Linked DNA regions of Homo sapiens: region 1 is linked to region 2. Evidence: fine-mapped expression QTL. A gene starts in region 2. The other region holds a variant in brackets. All regions are shown on one strand. Distances are between the middles of the regions.

What was found. PIP is the estimated chance that this variant, and not a neighbour inherited with it, causes the effect. A credible set is the group of variants that fine-mapping cannot tell apart.
Region 1: its variant is the best candidate, but not a certain one, in a credible set for the expression of HSPA9 in whole blood (INTERVAL, PIP 0.56).

Annotation. Positions count from the first base shown.
Region 1 is chr5:138,480,271-138,492,375 of GRCh38, reverse strand. LOC124901078 (a long non-coding RNA gene) reads right to left here and starts at 48. Exons shown (of 2, transcript XR_007058953.1): 1 at 1-48. RefSeq lists a silencer at 1-532 and enhancers at 1-683, 684-1,377. The variant G/C (reference allele first, on the strand shown) is at 7,318.
Region 2 is chr5:138,570,674-138,582,294 of GRCh38, reverse strand. HSPA9 (heat shock protein family A (Hsp70) member 9) reads left to right here and starts at 6,894. Exons shown (of 17, transcript NM_004134.7): 1 at 6,894-7,057; 2 at 8,169-8,227; 3 at 8,445-8,532; 4 at 11,154-11,335. The coding sequence starts at 6,977. LOC105379193 (a long non-coding RNA gene) reads right to left here and starts at 11,217. Exons shown (of 3, transcript XR_001742900.1): 1 at 11,129-11,217. RefSeq lists enhancers at 6,300-6,439, 6,017-6,665, 6,580-6,859, 7,100-7,149, 6,666-7,313 and 1 more.

The DNA.
Region 1 (12,105 bases), 90 kb after region 2:
ACCCCCAAGTCGGCCCGTCCCGCGCCTCCCGCGCCGGGCCAGGCCCCGCGTTCCCGTCCCTCCCGCCGCTGCCGCCCCCTCCTTGGCAGCAGGTCCGCTGGCCGCGGGCTCCGAGGTTGGGCGGGCCCAGCGGACCGGGCTCCCAGCCCGCGGGCCGCCAGCCAGCCGCGCCGGGAAGGAAGCGCCTTGTATGGGCCTGGGGCCGGGAGGAAGCGCCTTGTAGGGCTCGGGGAGGAAGCGCCATACATGGCGCGGGGCGGACGGGGGCGGGCCGGGGGCGGGAGCCCGCCCGGGATGGAGCCGTTTCCGCCGGAGCCTCTGCGGGCACCGAGCCTCGCAGCCGCGGGCGGGGCGCAGGGGCGCAGGGGCTCCGGGGTTCTACGCGGCCTCGACGCCTGCGGGCCCGGTGGGAATTCCAGCAAAGCCATGCACGATCTGTGGCCTTGGGTGCAGTGCCTTCGTCTCTGAGCCTCGGGCCCTCTCCGGAGGCTGGGGTGAAACGAGAGGCTGCCGGGGGGCCCGCGTGGCGGCCCCGGGCCCTCGCAGTTGCAGGCTGCAGGAGCGGTTTCCCAGACGCCGGCTGGTCGTGCCCCTTTAGCCTCTTCCCAGCCGTCTCAGGCCCGGGAAGCCTGTACGAAGGGCAGAATGAGGAGCGGACGGCTTCGGGAGAGATCTTTCCAGAAGAAAATAGGGCACCCTGAATGTGGAGTTTTCCTTTCCAGTTCAGACAGCGAGGTTCCAGCCCCAGCGTCTCCCCTTGCCAGCCGGGTGATGCTGGGACGGGTACTCACCTTCTCCTGAGCCTGTGTCCTCATCTCCTCCGTGAAATGGGAGTGAGAGTTCCTGCTGTGCAGGTTTGTGGAGATAATTAAATGAAATGGGGGCTGTGTCAAGTGCCTGACGTGGCGTAGGTGCTTCGGCAGTGCCAGCTCCTCAGTCCTCTGTGCCCTTTCCCTGTTCGGGAGTGGGGGCCATTCTCCCTGGAAGCCCTGCCCCTTGAAGGAGACGCTCCTCCTTAGGCATCTTGGGGCCTCCTCGCCAAGACTGGGCCTTCTCCATAGGCATGCCTGTGGCCCCACTGCCCCAGTGACCTGCCATGCCCTCTTCTATCTAACCCAGAGCATAGGTAACCTCCTAGACCATCCTGTGAAGGCAGAAAGAACCTGGGGGAAGTCGAGGTTCCCATCACAGCCAGAAACTGGTATCTAGGACACCGTCCCCTCCCACGCCTGCTGTCAGTACCACACCCACACATTTCACCAAGAGATGGGTATCAATCTCAGAGAAGCATTTCCCAATCCTCGCTTGCTGGCCCTGCCCTGCCCTCATCAGTCCTGCCCATCCCGGAGTCCCACTGAAATCTAACCTGAATCCTCCTGTTCCATCCTGCTGAGCAGCAGTCCGCAGTCCCTGATAGATTCCAGGCAAGTTTGTGGACACACAATAGATGCATGTCACCCACAGCCTTGTTTCCTTTCATCCCTGTCAGGCAAGGAGGCTGTCGTTGGCATGGTAACTTTCCCTGTAAAAGTTGCAGCCCTCAAGGATGTTTTTCAATTCCAGCAGGGACACAGCTCCTTCCCGACATTGTAGACTACGGGGTGACATGTAGATGTGTCATTCTGGCCTCCCCCGGAATGGGGACATGGAGCTGGCAGCACAAAAGGATGGGTTCGTGGAGGGCAGCAAAAGGCTTAAGGGAGATGTCGATTGGATCTCTGAGGAACAGGTTCCTTCTGCCCTGTGTTCTGATACTCTGCCACCCAGAGAAACCAGTTCTGAGGCCCAGAATATTTCGGGAGACTCTTGGGATCTCATAGTGAAAGATAAACACATATCTTCGCTAGAACCAGGCCCCTGACAAATAGCATGATGCCCAGGGCTTAATTCCATAGAATAAGCTGATAAATCATAAAGCCTCCAAAATCCAGCGATTTCCTTTCTCTTCGATTCCTCTGTGGAATAAATGAATATTTATTAGCCATCTCCCGTGTCCCAGCTTCCCATACATCATTTCAACTAATTCTCTGCACAGTTCCTATGAGGGACGTATTACAACATTCATTTTGCAAATAGGGAAACTAGAATTTGGGGAAAGATCTTAAGCACCTTGACCAAAAATCACACGGCCGTGGAGTGGCAGCACCAGGGCTGGGACCCCATTCTTCAGAGCCCAACCCCGTACCTTTTCCACTAGTTCTGTGTTCCTTTATATTTGCTTCTGTGCTACAGGTAAAGATAGTCTTCCCCGCAGGCTCCAAGGCACTGCCTTTCTAGGGAGTCCTCAGCAAGGAAAGGTGGCATCAGCATCTGCCTCTGGGCCCATGTGTTCCTGTGTGGCCCTGCCTGGCACTGCAGCAGCCCCAGCAGCCCCAATCCAGAGGCTTCTCCCTGCCAGCTGCCTTGTCTCCGTCATGGAGTTTCCCCGGCAGAGGGCAAGCGGAGGGAAAGTGGTTCCCAGCTGCCAGCTTCATCTAGGCAAAATCACTTTTGAGCCAGCCCTGGCTTCCCTCAGTCCCTCCAGAGGAGCACATTCAGCTCCCCCGCAAAAAGGAGGCGGGGAGAGACACAGAAAAGAAGGGAACTTCCATGTCTTTCTCTCCCTGGCTGGGAAGCACTTGGCTTTGGGCTGCCACTCATCTTGTAGGTGGGGAAGATTAATACTGATCCTCTTGAGTTACAGAAGTCTCTAAAATGAACCCTTGGGCAGAGCTTTGTCCAAGAGAGATGCTCGTGGAAAGCCCTGGGTCTGAGTGCGGTGGGAGGGGAGACGCAGGTCTCAGCAAGGACAGAGACCCCTGGATCTCCTCCTGCTCTCCCACGTGCTCTCTTCTGAGTGCATTCTTCTGTCCAAAAAGATAAGAAGGGTCATTTCCTGGCAAATGGAACAGGGTCAGGGAGAAAGCAAGAAGAGGAGGGAACTATCGGGTTTTGACCTTGAGCAAAACAGGGAAGGTGTTGATAGTGTTAATAGTTAACATTTACCCACAGTGTGTCAACCACTCTTCATTTATTATCTCATTTAATCCCCCCTCAGGTAATCCTACTGTTATCTCTGTTTTAGAGATAAGGAAATTGAGGCATATGGACTCCTCAGTAACAACTCCCAATTTATGAGAGATTTGGCCAGCTTGGGCAACATGGCGAGACCCCCTCGCTACCAAAAATACAAAAATTAGCCAGGCGTGGTAGTGCCTGCCTATAGTCCCAGCTACTCAGGAGGCTGAAGTAGGGGAGGATTGCTTGAGCCTGGGAGGTCGAGGCTTCGGTGAGCCGAGATTGCGCCACTGCACTCCAGCCTGGGTGACAGAGTGAGACTCTATCTCTTAAAAAAAGAGAGCCAGCCCAGCACTCTGTAGACATTGCCTCATTTAACCCGCATAAACCAATGAGATGAAACCATTATGGCCATTTTATTTTGCTTTTTTTTAAAACTTTAATTATTTTAAATTTCTTATTTTTTTTAACACCTACTAGAATGAGAATTACTCCCATTTTCTACAGGTGAAAACTGAGGTTCAGAGAAGTAGGGAACTTGCCTGTGATCATGAAGTATGTAAATGGCAGACCAAGGGCTCAGAATTTGGGTCTGTGTGACTCCAGAGCACGTGTGCTTGTCCTTTTTGCCCTGCTGTCTCCTGACTCACCAAGGCTTCTTCACCGCCCCTAGGGCTCCTGCTCAGATAGGCTGAGACCACAAAAATCTGCCCACACCTACATTTCCCTAGTGCTCCACACACAGATTAAAACTTGGCTGCTGTTCACTTTGTTTGTTCACACTTGCCACCAGAGCATGTATGGGGCGTGGACAGATAGGCATGGGTGATACGGGGCCCTGTGTCTTGGGACTCTGGCTGTCAACTGGACTCTCTCTCCCAACCCGGACTCCAGAAGCAGGAGACTTGAGAGGTCTCCACTACCCTTCCCAAGCCTTGAAATTTTCCTAAGAGACCAAGATGTCTCCATTGAACAGCCTCGGGAGATCTCCTGAAGACCCAAGGAGGTGCTTCTTGGAGAAGAGGCTGGAGAGCCCAGCAGTTTTTTGTTTGTTTGTTTGTTTGTTTGAGACCACGTCTTGCTCTGTTGCCCAGGCTGGAGTGCAGTGGTACCATCTTCACTCACTGCAACCTCCGCCTCCCAGGTTCAAGTGATTTTTCTGCCTTAGCCTCCTGAGTAGCTGGGAATACAGGCACGTGCCACCACGCCAGGCTGGAGTGCAGTGGTGTGATCTCGGCTCACTGCAATCTCTGTCTCTGGGGTTCAAGTGATTCTCCTGCCTTAGCCAGCAGCTGGGACTACAGGTGCGCACCACCATGCTCGGCTAATTTTTTGTATTTTAGTAGAGACGGGGTTTCACCATGTTGGCCACGTTGGTCTTGAACTCCTGACCTCGTGATCCATCCACCTTGGCCTCCCAAAGTGCTGGGATTATAGGCGTGAGCCACCGTGCCTGGCCAAAATGCAAGAGAAACTCCCCAGAATGGGCGCCCATCTCCAGAGTTGGAGGCAAGCACACCAACCAACTGCACCACACAAATGGTCACTAATCTTTGTATTTTTAGTAGAGATGGGGTTTCACCATGTTGGCCAGGCTAGTCTCGAACTCCTGACCTCAAGTGATCCACCTGCCTTGGCCTCCCAAAGTGTTGGCATTACAGGCATGAGCCACCGGGCCCAGCCAAGCCCAGCAGTTTTAATCAGGGAGACCTCAGCCGGGCGCGGTGGCTCACGCCTGTAATCCTAGCATTTTGGGAGGCCGAGGCGGGTGGATCACGAGGTCAGGAGAACTAGACCATCCTGGCTAACATGGTGAAACCCCATCTCTACTAAAAATAAAAAAAATTAGCCGGGCGTGATGGCGAGTGCCTGTAGTCTCAGCTACTGGGGAGGCTGAGGCAGGAGAATGGCGTGAACCCGGGAGATGGAGCTTGCAGTGAGCCGAGATCGCGCCACTGCACTCCAGCCTGGGTGACAGAGCGAGACTCCATCTCAAAAAAACAAACAAACAAACAAACAAAAAAATCAGGGAGACCTCTCATCTATCACTGAAGGCCTTTAGCCAGCCTGGCTCCCATAGCTCACAGAGCTCCTCTGCATGGTGACAGGAGCATGACTCCAAGGCTGCCACCCACGCTGTGGGCCTGAGGGGGTGGGAAACACTTTAAATCCTGAGTCAGAGGAAAGGTTCCACTTCACTTGCCCTGGAACAGAAAGCCAAGGATGCTGCAGTCTGTATGGAGAAGAAGGGGAACTGGAAATTGAGAAAGAATAGTGCTTACTTCCTTCCCTACCATCTCTTATTTTTAAAACATTTTATTTATTTATTTTTTATTCCACCATATGTGATTCATGCTCATTGCAGAAAATACATGTGATGGAAATAAGCTTCATTAGTTTGAGTGTTTCTCCCTGTTTTCTCTCCTCTCACCCATCCACAAAAGGTTTCCAGCTCAGAATTCATGCCCACTCCCAACTCCAAGAGTCTGCTCTCAGCCATCCCCAGTCCGGCATCTTTTGTGATGCAGAATCAAAATGAGTGGGTGAGGGTGCTGGTTAGAGACAGGAGGAGATGGAGAGCTAGAGAGGCTGGGAGAAAGAAGGACTTAGGCAGAGAGGCTAAATCCATCTATATAATAAAGAACAAGGAAGGGGAAGAGAGAAGGGAAAGAGAGGGGGTAGAAAGGAAAGGTTAGGAGGAATTTTATAGAGTACAGTATTGCTCTGAGGCATTAAGTAGACACCCTGTAGTTTTCCAAGTCAAGATTGGATTTATTTTTGTTTTCTGTCTCCAGTATCATAATCCTTTTTTTTTTTTTTTTTTTTTTTTGAGACGGAGTTTCGCTCTTGTTGCCCAGGCTGGAGTGCAATAGCGCAATCTTGGCTCACCACAACCTCTGCCTCCTGGGTTCAAGCAATTCTCCTGCCTCAGCCTCCCGAGTAGCTGGCATTAACAGACATGCGCCACCACGTCTGGCTGATTTTGTATTTTTGATAGAGACAGGGTTTCTCCATGTTGGTCAGGCTGGTCTTGAACTTCCGACCTCAGGTGATCCTCCAACCTCGGCCTCCCAAAGTGCTAGGATTACAAGCTTGAGCCACCGCACCAGGCCAGGATCATAATTTTTTATTTGCAACTCCATGGAGAGCCTTGACCATGTAGACATTCAGAATTTCTTTTTTTTTTTTTTCTTTTTTTGAGACGGAATCTCGCTCTGTCGCCCAGGCCGGAGTGCAGTCACACGATCTCGGCTCACTGCAACCTCCGCCTCCCGGGTTCACGCCATTCTCCTGTCTCAGCTTCCCGAGTAGCTGGGACTACAGGCGTTCGCCACCATGCCCAGCTAATTTTTTGTATTTTTAGTAGAGATGGGTTTTCACCGTGTTAGCCAGGATGGTCTCGATCTCCTGACCTCGTGATCCGCCCGCCTCAGTCTCCCAAAGTGCTGGAATTACATGTGTCAGCCACTGCGCCCAGCTGACATTCAGAATGTCTTTGGGGTTCCATACAGGAAAGTACAAAATATTGTCATTTGACAAATGAAAGAAGAGACTTGAGTATTTATCGTGCTTTCTTTACAATTATGATTTAGTCTAGAAAAATTCTGGCTAACAAATGCAAACGGAATGATAGAATTATAAAATCACCCTTTGGCCAAGTACATTGACTCATGCCTGTAAACCCAGCACATTGGGAGGCCAAGGCGAGCAGATCACTTGAGGTCAGAAGTTCAAGACCAGCCTGGCCAACATGGTGAAACCCCATCTCTACCAAAAATACAAAAATTAGCCGGTTATCATGGCGTGCACCTGTAGTCCCAGCTACTCAGGAGGCTGAAGCAGGAGAATCGCTTGAACCTGGGAGGAGGAGGTTGCAGTGAGCCGAGATCACGTCATTGTGCTCAGTCTGGGTGACAAGAGCGAAACTCCATCTCAAAAAAATAGAAAAACAAAAAATAAATAAAATCACCCTTTTAACCCCTAATGAGATAATAGATTTAGATAAGGATCATTGATCATCGGAGATTTCTGTAACCATTGCATGAAAGGTATAGAGAAACTTTGTAATGCCAGTGATACTTGGACCCATCAATCAATCTGGGTTTTTTTCAGAGACAGGGTCTCCTATGTTGCTTAGGCTGGAGTGCAGTGGCTATTCACAGGTGCAATCATAGCTCACTATAGCCTCAAACTCCTGGGCTCAAAGGATCTTCCTGCCTTAGCCTCTTGATTAGCTGGGACTACAGGCACCTGGCTGATTAATTCATTTTAACATCACGCACACAAAAAGAGAACTAACCAAGAGAATTGAAAACATAT[G/C]TTTGTACAGAAACCTGTACATAATGTTCACAGCAACAAGTATTATTCAAATAGCTAAAAAGTGGAAACAATTCAAATGTCCATCAACTGATGAATGGATAAATAAAATGTGGTGTGTCCATATAATGGAATATGATTCAGATATAAAGAGGAGTGAAGTACTGAGACATGCTACAAAATGGATGAACCTTGAAAACATTATGTTCAGCGAATGGAGCCAGACACAAAAGGCCATATATTATTTAATGCTATGTATATGAAATATCCAGAACAGGCAAACTGGTAGAGACAGAAAGTAGATTAGTAGTTGTCAGTGATTTGGGGGCAGGGGGTGGTAAGGAATGGAGAGTGTCTGCTAACAGGTACAGGGTTTATTTTGGGGATAATTGTAATGTTCTGGAATTAGTGGCAACGGATGTGCAACACTACAAATATACTAAAATTCATTGAATTGTACACTTTATTTTTATTTTTTTATTTTTTATTTTTGAGATGGAGTCTTACTCTGTCGCCCAGGCTGGAGTGCAGTGGCGCGGTCTCGGCTCACTGCAAGCTCTGCCTCCCAGGCTCACACCATTCTCCTGCCTCAGCCTCCCGAGTAGCTGGGACCACAGGCGCCCACCACCAAGCCCGGCTAATTTTTTGTATTTTTAGTAAGGACGGGGTTTCACCGTGTTAGCCAGGATGGTCTCGATCTCCTGACCTCGTGATCTGCCCGCCTAGGCCTCCCAAAGTGCTGGGATTACAGGCTTGAGCCACCGCGCCCGGCCTGTACACTTTAAATGGAGAATTTTATGTTATGTGAATTATATTTCACCATTTAGAAATCCCATATAGGAAACTAAAGAGAGAGAGAAAAAAAATAAAACCCTAAAAATTATGTACTTCTTGTTATGTTGCAATACCAAGTGTATAGCATCACCTAAAAAGTGAACCCGAGTCGGATCCAGCCTCTGGGTGTAACAACCAGTTTATGTGAAATTGATGGGATAAAAGGACATATTGAACAGAATTATAAGGGGGGAAACAAGGCAATGTGTACAATTCAAAAAGTGGGAAATTCTTCAGGACAAATAACCTGTTTTCTTCAAGACAAATAACCTGTTTTCTTCAACAAATAGATAGCAAAAGGAACTATTGTGGCTGAAAAGAAACTTTAAAGACATCGACCAAATGCAAAGTGTGGTCTTTTTTGGGTTCTGATTCCAGCAAAAGAACTTAAAAATACTTATGAAGATATACACTGAAGTATTTACAGATGAAATTATATAATGTCTGGGATTTGCTTCAAAATAATCCAGTGTGTGGGGGTGAGGGTAGGGAAGAGGGTGTTATAGAAGAAACAAGACTGCTGTGAAATGATCATTGTTGAACTGGTTGATAGATACAGGGAGGTTATTACATCATTTCCCCCTACTTTTGAGGATATTTAAGATTTTCTACAATAAAAATTATGAAGTTTGATCTAGCCACAAAATTGATATTTAGAATTTATTTTTAGAATTTACATATATGTGGGCCGGGTGCAGTGGCTCACGCCTATAATCCCAGCACTTTGGGAGGCCAAGGTGGGGGATCACGAGGTCAGGAGATCCAGACCATCCTGGCTAACACGGTGAAACCCCGTCCTTACTAAAAATACAAAAAATTAGCCGGGCGTGGTGGTGGACGCCTGTAGTCCCAGCTACTTGGGAGGCTGAGGCAAGAGAATGGCGTGAACCTGGAAGGCAGAGCTTGCAGTGAGCCGAGATCGCACCTCTGCACTCCAGCCTGGGCGACAGAGCGAGACTCCGTCTCAAAAAAGAAAAAAAGAGAAAAGATTGAATAGTTGCGTTTCAGGTATCCCAGACCTTATTGAAAGCTGAAATTAAAAGGCATGCATACAGTCCGAAGTGATCCATCTAAATTACTGTTATTATTGCTACATCAGAAGTAGAGGACTCTCCTGAGGAGACAGGAAGCAGTGTAGCTTTTCAGACACCCAGAAACACCATCAAAAGTAGTGGCGTGCCAACACACTAATGCCATCTCAGTCCCTGTTGCCTTCAGGAAAAGTACAACCCCTTGGACTGTTACTGAGGGCCTTCCAAATCTGGCCCCAACCTGCCCTTCCAGCCACATTCCCTGCCCCTCCCCTCCGTACTTCCTGCCGCCCCACCATTAATTTGCTGGTTCCTGAACACACCTCCCTGGCTTTGCACTTGCTGTTCCCTTGCCCGCACGTCCTCCTGTGAACTCCTGGTCTTCCTTCTACACCCCATTCCTCCATCTCTCCTCTTGACAGAATTAGTCACTCCCTGCTCTGTACACACCTCTCATATATCACACTATGGTAATTATTTCTTTCTGAATCTTTCTGCATGCAATGTGGTGCTGCCCCAGACTCTATCCTGTTTATCTGTATGTGCTTAGGGCCTGACATAAAGTAGGTATTTGATAATACATCTTGGATAAATTTTGATCTATTCATGATAGAGCAAAGGAGCCACATAGACTCTGGATGAACTAGTACTGAGGATGACCCCAAGAGAGTCACCCAGACTTGAGCTCTTCTTTCTAAGGGGTGCCTACGAAATTGTAGAACAATAAAAACAAAGTCTGACCCAAGAATAACCAACAGGAACACCTGGCTAACACCAATTCAGTAATAAGCAAAAGAAAGATATTTAAGAGAAAGGCTTTGAGCCTAGTGCTTTGTGTGAGTTGTACATGGGGAATGAAGATGGAAAGAGAATTCAGTGATGGGGGCGAGATCTCACGAGTTCTCTAAGAAATAGTTGAGGGAGCTTGATGAACTAATAAAATAACACTTTCTGGTTTTTAAAAAACCTACAGCCCCCAAATTTAGAAGCCAACAGCAGTTGTCTGGTGCTTCTATCCCGCCAGCCTCTAACAGACAGACCATCCACTTACGGGGAATGTTAAACAACTTGCATCCGCTCAGCAAAAGCCTAGAGGCCTGAGTCCCTAGGAAATCTTTCCCATCTTTGTTTGTTTGTTTGTTTTGTTTTGTTTGAGACAGAGTCTCACTCTGTCACCCAGGCTGGAGTGCAGTGGTGTAATCACAGCTTATTGCAACCTCCGCCTCCCCGGTTCAAGCGATTCTCATGCCTCCGTCTCCTGAGTAGCTGGGATTACAGGCACCTGCCACCATGCCTGGCTAATTTTTGTATTTTTTTTTTAGTAGAGATGCGGTGTCACCATGTTGGCCAGGCTGGTCTTGAACTCCTGACCTCAAGTGATCCACCCGCCTCGGCCTCCCAAAGTGCTGGGATTACAGGCATCAGCCACCGTGCCAGGCGTGTTTTCTTTTGTTTTCTTTTGAGGCTAGGTTTCGCTTAGTTGCCCAGGCTGCAGTGCAGTGAAGATCATAGCTCACTGCAGCCTCAAACTCCTGGTCTCAGGCGATCCTCTGACCTCAGCCTCCCTAGTAGCTGCGACTACAGGCATGTGCCACCACACCCAGCTAATTTTTTGTACTTTTTGTAGAGACAGGGTCTCTCTATGTTGCCCAGGCTGGTCTTGAACTTTTGGTCTCAAACCATCCTTCTGCCTCAGCCTCCCAAAGTGCTGGGATTATAGGTATCAGCCATTCCACCTGGACCCATCTTTATTTTTTACCAGTCTTTAACAGCTTATTATCAAAGGGTCATACTCCCGCAATGCAAGAAAATAGTCCATCAGAGGACCTTTATAATAAACCAGATTCTAGAAAATATTTACTTGCTTATCTAGTCTTTTTCTTTTGCTTTCTTAAATAGAACAATTTTCTTCCAATGATAAAAACATCTGCTCACCGGCCACAGTGGCTCACACCTGTAATCCCAGCACTTTGGGAGGCCAAGGAGGGCAGATCACCTGAGGTCAGGAGTTCAAGACCAGCCTGGCTAATATGGCGAAACCCCATCTCTACTAAAAATACAAAAATTAGCCAGGCGTGGTGGCACAGCACTAGCTACTCAGGAGGCTGAGGCAGGAGAATCGCTTTAACTCAGGAGGTGGAGGTTGTAGTGAGCCAAGATCACGCCACTGCACTCTAGCCTGGGCGACAGAGCAAGACTCCGTCTCAGAAACAAACAACAACAACAACAAAAATCAGCTCATTTGGAAAACACAGAAAAGTATAGAAAATAAAAGTTAGTCTGGGCACGGTGGCTCACACCTGTAATCCCAGCACTTTGGGAGGCCAAGGAGGAAGGATCACCTGAGGTCGGGAGTTCGAGGCCAGCCTGACCAATATGGAGAAACCCCGTCTCTACTAAAAATATAAAATTAGCCAGACGTAGTGGAGCATGCCTGAAATCCCAGCTACTCGGGAGGCTGAGGCAGGAGAATTGCTTGAATCCATGAGACAGAGGTTGTGGTGAGACGAGATCACGCCACTGCACTCCAGCGTGGGCAAGAGCAAAACTCCGTCTCAAAAAAAAAAAAAAAAAGAGAAAAGAAAAAGAAAGAAAAGAAAGAGGCCGGGCACGGTGGCTCATGCCTGTAATCCCAGCACTTTGGGAGGCTGAGGAGGGCGGATCATGAGGTCAGGAGATCAAGACCATCCTGGCTAACACAGTGAAACCCCGTCTCTACCAAAAATATAAAAAATTAGCTGGGCGTGGTGGCGGGTGCCTGTAGTCCCAGCTACTCGGGAATGGCGTGAACCTGCGAGGCGGAGGTTGCAGTGAGCTGAGATCACGCCACTGCACTCCAGCCTGGTTGACAGAGTGAGACCCTGTCTCAAAAAAAAAAATACACTACCTAGAATGACAATCACCAGCATTTGATGTATAATGATGT
Region 2 (11,621 bases):
TTGGTCAGCTCAGGCTGCTACAACAAAATATTGTAGACTGGATGGCTTAAACAATAGACAGTTCTTCCTTACACTTCCCGAGGCTGAAAGTCTGAGATGAGGGTGCCAGCATGGTGGGTTCTGGTGTGGGCTCTCTTCATGGGGAAGGGGAGATCATCTTTCCTGTTTCCTCTTGTAAAGGCACTAATTCCGGCTGGGCGCAGTGGCTCACGCCTGTAATCCCAGCACTTTGGGAGGCTGAGGCGGGTGGATCACGAGGTCAGGAGATAGAGACCATCCTGGCTAACATGGTGAAACCCCGTCTCTACTAAAAATACAAAAAATTAGCCGGGCGTGGTGGCAGGCACCTGTAGTCCCAGTTACTCGGGAGGCTGAGGCAGGAAAATGGCATGAACCCGGGAGGCGGAGCTTGCAGTGAGCTGCGATCGCCACTGCACTCCAGCCTGGGTGACAGAGTGAGACTCTGACTCAATAAATAAATAAATAAATAAATAAATAAAGGCACTAATTCCATCATGAGGGCCCATCTTCATGATTTAATCACCTCCCAAAGGCCCATTTCCAAATATAATCATATTGGGAATTAGGGATTCAACACATAAATTTTGGGGGACACACACATTCAGTCTATAGCAGAAACCAACAGCTCCTCGCATAGAGAGAGCATATAATCTAAGCGAACTGAAAAGGCAACTGACGTAATTTCACTAATCATGTGCCTGAAAGGGTGAGGACAGGATAGGAGGAAGAGGGTGATGAGCCAGAATTGTCTGTAAGCATTTGAAAAAGGTCCTGGACTGACTAAACATTTAACCTGAAGTCATGTGGGTTATTTCTAAAAAGCATAGCAAGTTAAAAAAGGAGGCTGTAGAGCAGAAGCTGGAACAGTCTGTGTGACCTTGGGCAATTCACTGATTCTCTCTGTTCTTTATCTAAGGTTCTTTCCAGGTTTCTAGAACCCAAGTTCAGGCTTAACGGCTAGTTCAGGGTTCCTTTCACACTATATCATGCTGGTCAAGAATAAATTACAAACTTGGCCCTCTAAACTAAAAAATCCAGAAAAGGCTCCTACATCTTTAAGAATTAAATATTAAATAGATCTTCATGAGGAGCAAATCTCTTGTTTTGTCAGCCCTCCCCACTCCCAGTAGGAACTTCTTGCACAAGGCCTTGGCCTATCCAATAGCCAACTATTTTCCAAACCTGATTGAAAATCCAGAGTGAGCATAACTGACTGCTTTCTACCTTGAGCAATGAGACTACATTGTCACTGGAATGTAAATGTCCTATCTAATCAAAGTGACATCTTATTTTGATTTATTGCTGCCTTACTTTTCTTTTAGGGTCATCCTGTATTTCTCTTTTCTCCTAACAGAAAGAGGGCAGGTTGGTGGGTTACTAGGCATTCACCATAGAATGAAACTTGCTAATTGTCACCACTTCTGGGGCCAGGGACATCACCTGCCATAATTCTTCCTACACTTTGCTGGGGCAAGCTCTGTTGAACCAGACTTGAGTGGAGCGACACTGTGTAATGCACTCCAATAGAGTATAGCTAATGCCAAAAGAGAAAAGTGGGAACTGTCTCCTGAAATCTGCCAAAGGTACATGAAAAATTCCAAGGAGAACAAAGGTGACAAATCCCTGCAGTATGCCACATTTTTATTTCCTGAAGATGGAAAGTGCCACAGCATGCTATTCATCTCTGGGGAAACTGAATAAAATGTCTTCTGAGTCACCAGTTTAAAGAGACTTTACTTTAAAAATATAAACTTGATCCTATGAGTTATAATACAGATTGAACTTTATAGTTGTCCTGGAACCTAAATAATTCTAAAAAAGGTTAAAGTATTTCTAACTTTTTAATTCTGCTGCCTAAAATAACTGCTATTAATAATGTATTAGGCCAGTATTATAAAACGCACCTTCTGGATATGTGAAAGTAGAGGTAAAAGATAAGACCTAGCTTGGTTATTAGACAGCAGAGCCTAGTGTTTAGTAGTGCAGGTTCTGGAGTTAAGAGAGTTTGGCTTCAAATTCTAGTTTCACCATTCAATTGCTATGTAACCACTCTAGGCCTCAGTTTCCACATCTGCAAAATGGTAATACCAATAATATTTACTTGAGACTATTGTTGTGAACATGTCAGTAAATAATGTATATAAAGCATTTGTAAGGCACTTAAAATGAACGCTCAACAACTATTGGTGATTACTATTCTAATGACAATTCCTATTAATGAATGAGTTATTTAAATACTTAAAAGTTGAAACTAGTTACCTGTCTTCAAATATGCTAAAGTAACAATCATGCCAGTTAGAATATTATTAAAAATATAGGCCAGGCATTGTAGCTCACGCCTGTAATCTCAGCACTCTGGGAGGCTGAGCCAGGAGGACTGCTTGAGGCCAGAAGTTTGAGACCAGCCTAGGCAACACAGCAAGACCCTATCTCTATAAAAGAAAAAATAATTATACATATATAATTATTTCCTGAATAATATATATGTATGGCATACACAGGTATTGGACAGCCGCCTGCTCTGTTTGGTAAACATTTATCTGCATGCAGATTATGCATTAGCTCCTTCCATTTCCCAATTTTGCACTGAGATGACAACAGAAATGAAATACAGCACTGTGCTGTAGAAGAATTATACCATTTAGCTACGGATCTGTCCATTCTTGCTCATCTGAACCTTTATGTTTTTAGATTCAGGTTCATTTCCTTGAGCCTTCAGGCTGTAGCCCATGTTAATTTGCAAAGCAGTCCAGTAGCCTGTCCTTCACGCTGAAGATATGATAAAGCTTGTGCTTTGAATATCTAGCGCTACCACATCCCCCTTGTGGTCGTGGAGAGTATTTGCAAGGCGCCTGAGAAACCACCAGAAACAGCAAACACACTGGATGTACCCATAGGATCGTAGTTTCCTACACCCTTAGATAACAACATTTGATTCCAGGATTCTTTTTTTTTTTTTTTTTTAGACGGAGTCTTGCTCTGTCGCCCAGGCTGGAGTGCAGTGGCTGGATTTCGGCTCACTGCAAGCTCCGCCTCCCGGGTTCACGCCATTCTCCTGCCTCAGCCTCCCGAGTAGCTGGGACTACATGTGCCCGCCACCGCGCAAGGCTAATTTTTTGTATTTTTAGTAGAGACGGGGTTTCACCGTGGTCTCGATCTCCTGACCTCGTGATCCACCCGCCTCGGCCTCCCAAAGTGCTGAGATTACAGGCGTAAGCCACCGCGCCCGGCCTAATTCCAGGATTCTTTTGATTAACACTTCGTGGCTTTTTAACGTATAGAGCAAGAAAAAGGAAAGCGAACTCTCGGCCGGCGCGGTGGCTCACGCCCATAATCCCAGTATTTTGGGAGGCCGAGGAAGGCGGATCTCTTGAGGTCAGGAGTTCGAGACCAGCCTGGCCAATATGGTGAAACCCCATCTGTACTAAAAATACAAAAAAAAAAAAAAAAAAAGAAGAAGAAAAGAAAAACTCTTAGGAGAACCAGTTAATACAACAGAGAAGTGAGAAGTATGCAGTTTCTCCAATTATTTCCACCTGCCCTTCTCCGCCCCGTCATGTACAACGTAAGAACATAATGTTTTTTATTGCATTTCAATGTTCAATATTATTTGTCACTCCTCTGTCTTCTTTGCATCGGTATATTGTTTTAGAATCTAAATCTCTACAAACAGGAATCATGAGCCTGTTTGGATAGCCTTTAAGAAAGCCTGCCTTCTCATTTTTCTTCCTTTCTCTCTCTTTTTTTTTTGGGGGGGGGGGGGGGCGGAGTCTGGCTCTGTCACCTGGAGTGCAGTGGTGCAATCTCCACTCACTGCAACCTCCGCCTCCTGGGTTCAGGCAATTCTCCTGCCTCAGCCTCCCGAGTAGCTGGGGTTACAGGTGCCCACTACCACGCCTGGTTAATTTTCGTATTTTTAGTAGAGACGAGGATTTCACCATGTTAGCCAGGCTGGTCTCGGACTCCTGACATCAGGTGATCCACCCGCCTCAGCATCCCAAAGTGCTGGGATTACAGGCGTGAGCCACCACGCCCGGCCGCATCTTTCTTTTCTCTCTTTCTCTTTCCTTCCTTTCCTTATTTCCTTTTCTCCTTCCTTCTTTCCCTCCTTCCCTCCCTCCTTCCTTCCTTTCTCCTTTCTTTCTGTTTTTTTGTTTTTTGTTTTTTTTAATGTCTCGCTGTGTCACCCAGACTGGAGTGAAATGGCACAATCATAATCACGACTCACTGCAGCCTCGACCTCTCTTGGCTCAGGTGATTCTTCCACCTCAGCCTCCCGAGTAGCTGGTAGCTGGGACTACAGGTGCACCACCATGCCCGGCTAATTTTTTGTAGAAATGGGGTTTTGCCATGTTGCCCAGGCTGTTCTCAAATTCCTGAACTCAAGTGATCCTCCCACTCCAGCCTCCCAAGTAGGTGGGACTACAGGTGCTTGCTACCATGCCCAGCCAATTTAAAAAAAAAAAAAAAAAAAATTGGCCGGCCGCAGTGGCTCACGCCTGTAATTCCAGCATTTGGGATGCCGAGGCGGGCGGATCCCTTGAGTTCAGGAGTTGGAGACCAGCCTGGGCAACAAGGCGAAACCCCGTCTCTACGAAAAATACAAAAATTAGCCAGGCGTAGTGCCGCATGTCTGTAATCCCAGCTACTCGGGGGAGGGGGGCGCTGAGGCGGCACTGGAATCATCTGAGCCCAGAGAGGTGGAGGCTGCAGTAAGCTGAGACTGCACCACTACACTGCAGCCTGGGCGACAGAGGCTAAAGATGGAGTCTCACTCTGTCGCTCAGGCTGATCTCGAACTCCTGGGTTCAAGTGATCCTCCCACCTCGGCCTCCCAAAGTGCTGGGATTACAGGCGTGAGCCACCGCCTGGCCACCCCTGCCTTCTGAGAGAACTAAAAACAAGAGAAATGAAGTGTTAAGTAACTAGTGAGGATAATATAGTAATAGCTGACAGTTAAGAGTGTGTGGGAGGCTTTTTAAAAACTTTTAGAATCTATATAATCTATAACCCATGTTACGTTAGACTTTTGTTTATTTTCTTACTCCCACTGCCATCCTCCTCAGAATGTAAACTCTTCAGTTAGCTTCTTTCCCTCCCCAACTTTCCCCAACATTTCCTTCACAGTTCCTCACCCAGGGGTGACTACTTAATAATACAGATCTTCCTGAAGAGATAGGGGGTCTGAAACATTTCTCTTTTTTTGAAAGCGGGCTTCCAGGACAAATTGCTTCATCTCCAAAATCAAGTTCAATCTGTCATCAGCCATTCGTTCGTGTTTTGCTTTCGCTGTATTCCTACCACCTGGGAGAGTGACTGACACACGGTAGGCATGCCAAAACATATCTGTTGAATCAATTAATTCCTCTTCTTAAAAATCTAAAACTGGGTTGGGCGCGGTGGCTCACGCCTGTAATCCCAGCACTTTGGGAGGCCGAGGCAGGCAGATCACGAGGTCAGGAGATCGAGACCATCCTGGCCAACATGGTGAAACCCGGTGTCTACCAAAAATATAAAAATTAGCTGGGCGTGGTGGCGCGCGCCTGTAATCCCATCTACTTGGGAGGCTGAGGCAGGAGAATAGCTTGAACCAGGGAGTCAGAGGTTGCAGTGAGCCGAGATGGCGCCACTGCACTCAAGCCTGGCGACAAAGACTGCCTCAAAAAAAAAAACAAAAACCTAAAAACTGGTCACAGGGTAGTGAAGTAGTTGACATCCTGCCACCAGCACAAGGTTTAAAAAGGGCCAGAGGAGTCTCAAGTCAGGCCCAGCACAGTGGGGAGAGGAAGAGCCTGAAGCTCAGCTATTTTTCTTTTTTTTCTTGAGACGGAGTCTCGCTCTGTCGCCCAGGCTGGAGTGCAGTGGCGCGATCTCGGCCCACTGCAAGCTCCGCCTCCCGGGTTCACGCCGTTCTCCTGCCTCAGCCTCCCGAGTAGCTGGGACTACAAGCGCCTGCCACCACGCCCGGCTACTTTTTCGTATTTTCAGTAGAGACGGGGTTTCACCGTGTTAGCCAGGATGGTCTCGATCTCCTAACCTCGCGATCCGCTCGCTTCGGCCTCCCAAAAGTGCTGGGATTACAGGCGTGAGCGCCCGGCCAAGCTCAGCTATTTTTTTTTCCCTTTGTGCAGGCTAATTGGCCTAATGTTCTGTGTGAATCAAACGCTTCGTAGTTGGAAACCCAAGACCCCTGTGATAAAACGCAACACGAAATTGTTTAACGTCTGTCTGCATATCCAAGTGTCTTTCAAGTTGTGAACAACGGGCGGGACCAAACAACAAAAGTACTGACGTCCTCACTTCACAAAGCCACAAGACAAGATGGCGCCGTCCTCCAGGAGCGGGAGCTGGGAACACGTCCACGCCCGGGGGGTGTGCACGCGCCCGGGCTCGCCCCAGGGAACGCTGGCGTGCACTCGGGCACCCAGTGAGCGCCGCAGTTAGTCTCCACCCATGTTTTCCGCCACTCCTTGCGCACATGCGCTCTAGGTTCTTAGCTGGATGTCTGTTGCGCCAACAGGCTCCTCCTCCCGCGCAACTGACGCAAGAAGACTGTAATCGGTTCGCAATTTATCCCGTGTGACCTTGAGTCTTTCCTGTCGCCGAGGACCGGGGCTGTCCGAGATACGGCCTTCATATCCCTCTTCCTCCCCTGGACTCTTTCTGAGCTCAGAGCCGCCGCAGCCGGGACAGGAGGGCAGGCTTTCTCCAACCATCATGCTGCGGAGCATATTACCTGTACGCCCTGGCTCCGGGAGCGGCAGTCGAGTATCCTCTGGTCAGGCGGCGCGGGCGGCGCCTCAGCGGAAGAGCGGGCCTCTGGGCCGCAGTGACCAACCCCCGCCCCTCACCCCACGTGGTTGGAGGTTTCCAGAAGCGCTGCCGCCACCGCATCGCGCAGCTCTTTGCCGTCGGAGCGCTTGTTTGCTGCCTCGTACTCCTCCATTTATCCGCCATGATAAGTGCCAGCCGAGCTGCAGCAGCCCGTCTCGTGGGCGCCGCAGCCTCCCGGGGCCCTACGGCCGCCCGCCACCAGGTGAGGAACTGGGACCTTCCCGAATGGGGTCACGGCCTCGGGCCTTGGGCCTCGGGCTTCGCTGCGGCAGGCCGCGCGCCCTTTAGGGTTTGAATTCTCCAGTATAGGTCAGGCGGGAAGGAAGGTAACGGGCCTTCCATAGTTAGCGCTGCCGGGTCAAGATTTTGCCCAAGGTTTTGCCTCCGGCTTGGGCCCTGCTGAGTCACACCCCTCGCGATCTAGAGTGTCATTTCAAAATTACCAGGTAGTGGTCCTCATGGCCTGTTCTGTGGCTGAATGGAAAGGTTTGGCCTTGGGGGTGAGGGATGCAGTCTATTGGGAAAGCCACTATTTTCAGTTTTATTTTTGGCTCCTCTACAGAATACAGAGTGTGTAAGGATCCCGTTGATACGGTGAAATAAAATAAGAAAGCTCTGAGTCGGAACTCCAGTTTTCGTGCTTAGCAACATTTTCTCAAAATCTGTGGTGTAAGATTGTACTCGTTTGTTACTTCAGAAAAAAAAGCAGATCGTGGGGCGGAGAAAAGGCTATGGAGTGGTTACTTGTTTTCTAAAATAAAAGACAAATGCTTTAGAGAACAGGAATTGTATGTGGGCATTAAGGAAGGCTTGGAAGGAGCCTGAGGTTAAGTTGTAATAAAGGTCTTTTATCCTAGTGAAACGCCACTACTTTTCTTTTTTCTTTCAAAGACCCTTAGTAACTCTAGTTCTTTTAAACTAATTGCACGGCAAGGTAAGGGGAAGTGTTTTCCCCCAGGGGACATCTGGCAATGTCTGTGGATATTTTAGGTTGTCACTTACTTACTGGGGTGCTTATTGGTTTCTAGGGTGTCGAGGCCAGGGATGCTGCTGTATATCCTACAATGCACAGAACAGCCCCCACCACAAAAATTTCGCCCAAAATTAATAGCGCCACGGTTGAGAAATCCTACTGTAATGTGATTCTAAGGCCATCTTTTATTTACCTTTTTTCGTCTTACTTATTTGGGAAACTTTAATATTTACTGTTTTAGTAGCTTAATGTATTTTATATACTAAGTGAGCCCAAGTTTTCTCTTTTTCCTCCCAGGATACACACTGGTTGGTGACTGAGTCAGTTTTTTCTTTTTTAGGATAGCTGGAATGGCCTTAGTCATGAGGCTTTTAGACTTGTTTCAAGGCGGGATTATGCGTAAGTATAATATCATTTCCTTTGAGAGGGAATACATATTAAACTTCAAAGCAGTGTTTTCTACATTTGTGATTATTCTTCTCTGTAATTATTTATCTGTATTTATTTAGAGATTATGTAGTATACCACTGTTAATTTTCCAATTAAATATTATCTTCCAGTGACTTTGGTCTATCAAGATAACAATAGCTGTGACACTGTTCTAAATGTCTTACAGATCAGAAGCAATCAAGGGAGCAGTTGTTGGTATTGATTTGGGTACTACCAACTCCTGCGTGGCAGTTATGGAAGGTAAACAAGCAAAGGTGAGCATGATTGATAACTAGTACCTTATCCAGAATCTGTCCAGAATTCTGTGCTCTTTTCCTTAGTTAAGGAATTTGAGAACCTGATTTGCGCTTTTTTTTTTTTTTTTTTTTTTTTTTTGGAGACAGTCTCTATAGCCCATGGTGGAGTGCAGTGGCACGGTCTCCGCTCACTGCAACCTCTGCCTCCTGGGTTCAAACAGTTCTCCTGCCTTGGCCACATAGCTGGGATTACAGGCATGAACCACCATTCCTGGCTAATTTTTTGTATTTTCAGTAGAGACAGTTCCACTGTGTTGGCCAGGCTGGTCTTGAGCTCAAGTGATCCGCCCACGTTGGCCTCCAAAGTGCTGGGATTACAGATGTGAACCACTAAGCCTGGCCTCGAAGTACTTCCAACTAAAACAGCAAAAACATAACTATAGATCAGGGCTGACCGGGCATAATGGCTCACGCCTGCAGTCCCAGCACTTTGGGAGGCCAAGGGGGGTGGATTACCTGAGGTCCCAAGTTCAAGACCAGCCCGGCCAAAATGGTGAAACCCCGTCTCTACTAAAAATGCAAAAAATTGGCCGGGTACAGTGGCTCACACCTGAAATCCTAGCACTTTGGGAGGCCAAGGCGGGTGGATCACAAGGTCAAGAGATCGAGACCATTCTGGCCAACATGGTGAAACCTGTCTCTACTAAAAATACAAAAATTAGCTGGGCGTAGTGGCACACACCTGTAGTCCCCGCTACTCGGGAGGCTGAGGCAGGAGAATCGCTTGAACCCAGGAGGTGGAGGTTGCAGTGAGCCAAGATCACATCACTGTACTCCAGCCTGGGTGACAGAGCGAGACTTTGTCTCAAAAAAAAAAAAAGAAGAGACTATAGATCAGGTTTTTCATACCCAATGTTGGGACAAGAATCTTTACTTCCACATGGAGAATTATATCTACTTCTAAGTTTTTTGGGGGGTTGGCCACAGATATCAGGCATATAGGAAAAATGCCAAGAAGCCCAAATTAGGGCCAAGAGAAGGAATAATCTCTTGGTGCCAAACAAGTGGGATAAGAAGACCATAGACAGTTCAGGTTATTTCAGAAGAGGAGATTGGGGGGAAAGGAAGTATGAAAGCAAAAGAGGCCATGAATGGAAGAAGCAAGAGTCAAGAATTCCAGGTGTTCTAAATCTTGCTAAGAACCCGGTGGGAATAAAGGTTGCATGTACAGAGTAAGGAGGCTTCAAAAGAAATAGCCTGCTCCAATGAACAACATGCATTACTTCAGAGATGAAGCTCCACTTCTAGTCTGTCTCTGCACACCCAACTTTGTTTCAATTTAGAAAATGCAGCACTTTGGTGGTTACCAGAGTAACCAAACAGTGCAAGCCATTCCCACCCCTCTTAATAGTAAATTAGTAGTCCTACCTCTATACCACATTTAAATCCTTTTCTGGGAAGTTAGATACATACAATTATCAGCACTACAAAGGTTCACCTGACAAGAGTCTTAAGCAACCAAAGCAGTTTTTAAAATGTAAATCAGGGCCAGGCCTGGTGGGTCATGCCTGTAATCCCAACACTTGGGGAGGCCACTTGAGTGTGGGAGTTGAAGATCACCCTAGGCAACATAGCAAAACACTGTCTCTACAAAAAATTAGCCGGGCATAGTGGTGTGCCCCTGTAGTCCCAGCTACTCTGGAGGCTAAGGTGGGAGGATCAGCTGAGGCTGGCAGGTCAATGCTGCAGTGAGCCGTGACAGTGCCACTGCACTCCAGCCTAGGTGACAGTGAGACTCTGTCTCAAAAAAAAAAAAAAAAGCCAGGCGCAGTGCCTCAAGCCTGTAATCCCAGCATTTTGGGAGGCCAAGGTGGGCGGATCGCCTGAGGTCAGGAGTTCGAGACCAGCCTGGCCAACTTGGCAAAACCCCATCTCTACTAAAAGTACACACACACACACACACACACAAAATTAGTTGGGTGTGGTGGCAGGCACCTGTAATCCCAGCTACTCAGGAGGCTGAAGTAGGAGAATTGAACCCAGGACAGGGAGTTTGCAGTGAGCCGAGATCGCGCCACTGCACTCCAGTCTGGGTGACAAGAGCGAGACTCCCTCTCAAAAAAAAAAAAAAAATAGTAGTTTGAAAGTAAAGGGCTAAAGATACCTTAACTAAATATCTACTGTTCATTAACTATCAGCAGTAAAGCATGCCCGGTAGTATTGTTGATGTGCATTTGTTTCGCAATTTGGGAGCTGTTTCTGTGTCTTAAATGATTGCTGCAAACATACCAGTAATAGGCTGGGCGTATTGGCTCATGCCTGTATCGCAACACTTCGGGAGGCTGAGGCGGGCAGATCACCTGAGGTCAGGAGTTCGAGACCAGCCTGGCCAAAATGGTGAAACCCCCGTCTCTACTAAAAAATGCCGAAAAATTAGCTTGGTGTGGTGGTGCACGCCTATAGTACCAGCTACTAGGGAGGCTGAGACAGAAGAATCGCTTGAACCCAGGATGCGGAGGTTGCAGTGAGCCAAGATTGTGCCATTGTACTCCAGCCTTAGCGACAGAGTGAGACTCCATCTCAAAAAACATACCAGTGATAACTACAAACTTACTCTCTATCACATTTTGGGAGTTTAGGTGCTGGAGAATGCCGAAGGTGCCAGAACCACCCCTTCAGTTGTGGCCTTTACAGCAGATGGTGAGCGACTTGTTGGAATGCCGGCCAAGCGACAGGCTGTCACCAACCCAAACAATACATTTTATGCTACCAAGCGTCTCATTGGCCGGCGATATGATGATCCTGAAGTACAGAAAGACATGTGAGTAACAGCAAAAGTTTTTTGCAAAAAGCAGTTATTTGCAAGGGCCACACAGAAGAGCCTCAGCATGTTGATGAGGATCCCTGGAGCACCTTACTTTAGTAATTTTACTTATTGTCCCTAGGGGAAATCTGTACCACTGCCAAAAGGGTAATCCCTTTAAAAAATTCATTTTTGGCCAGTGCAGTGGCTCACACCTGTAATCCTAGCACTTTGGGAGGCCGAGGTGGGTGGATCACCTGAAGTCAGGAGTTCAAGACCAGCCTGGCCAACATGGTGAAACCCT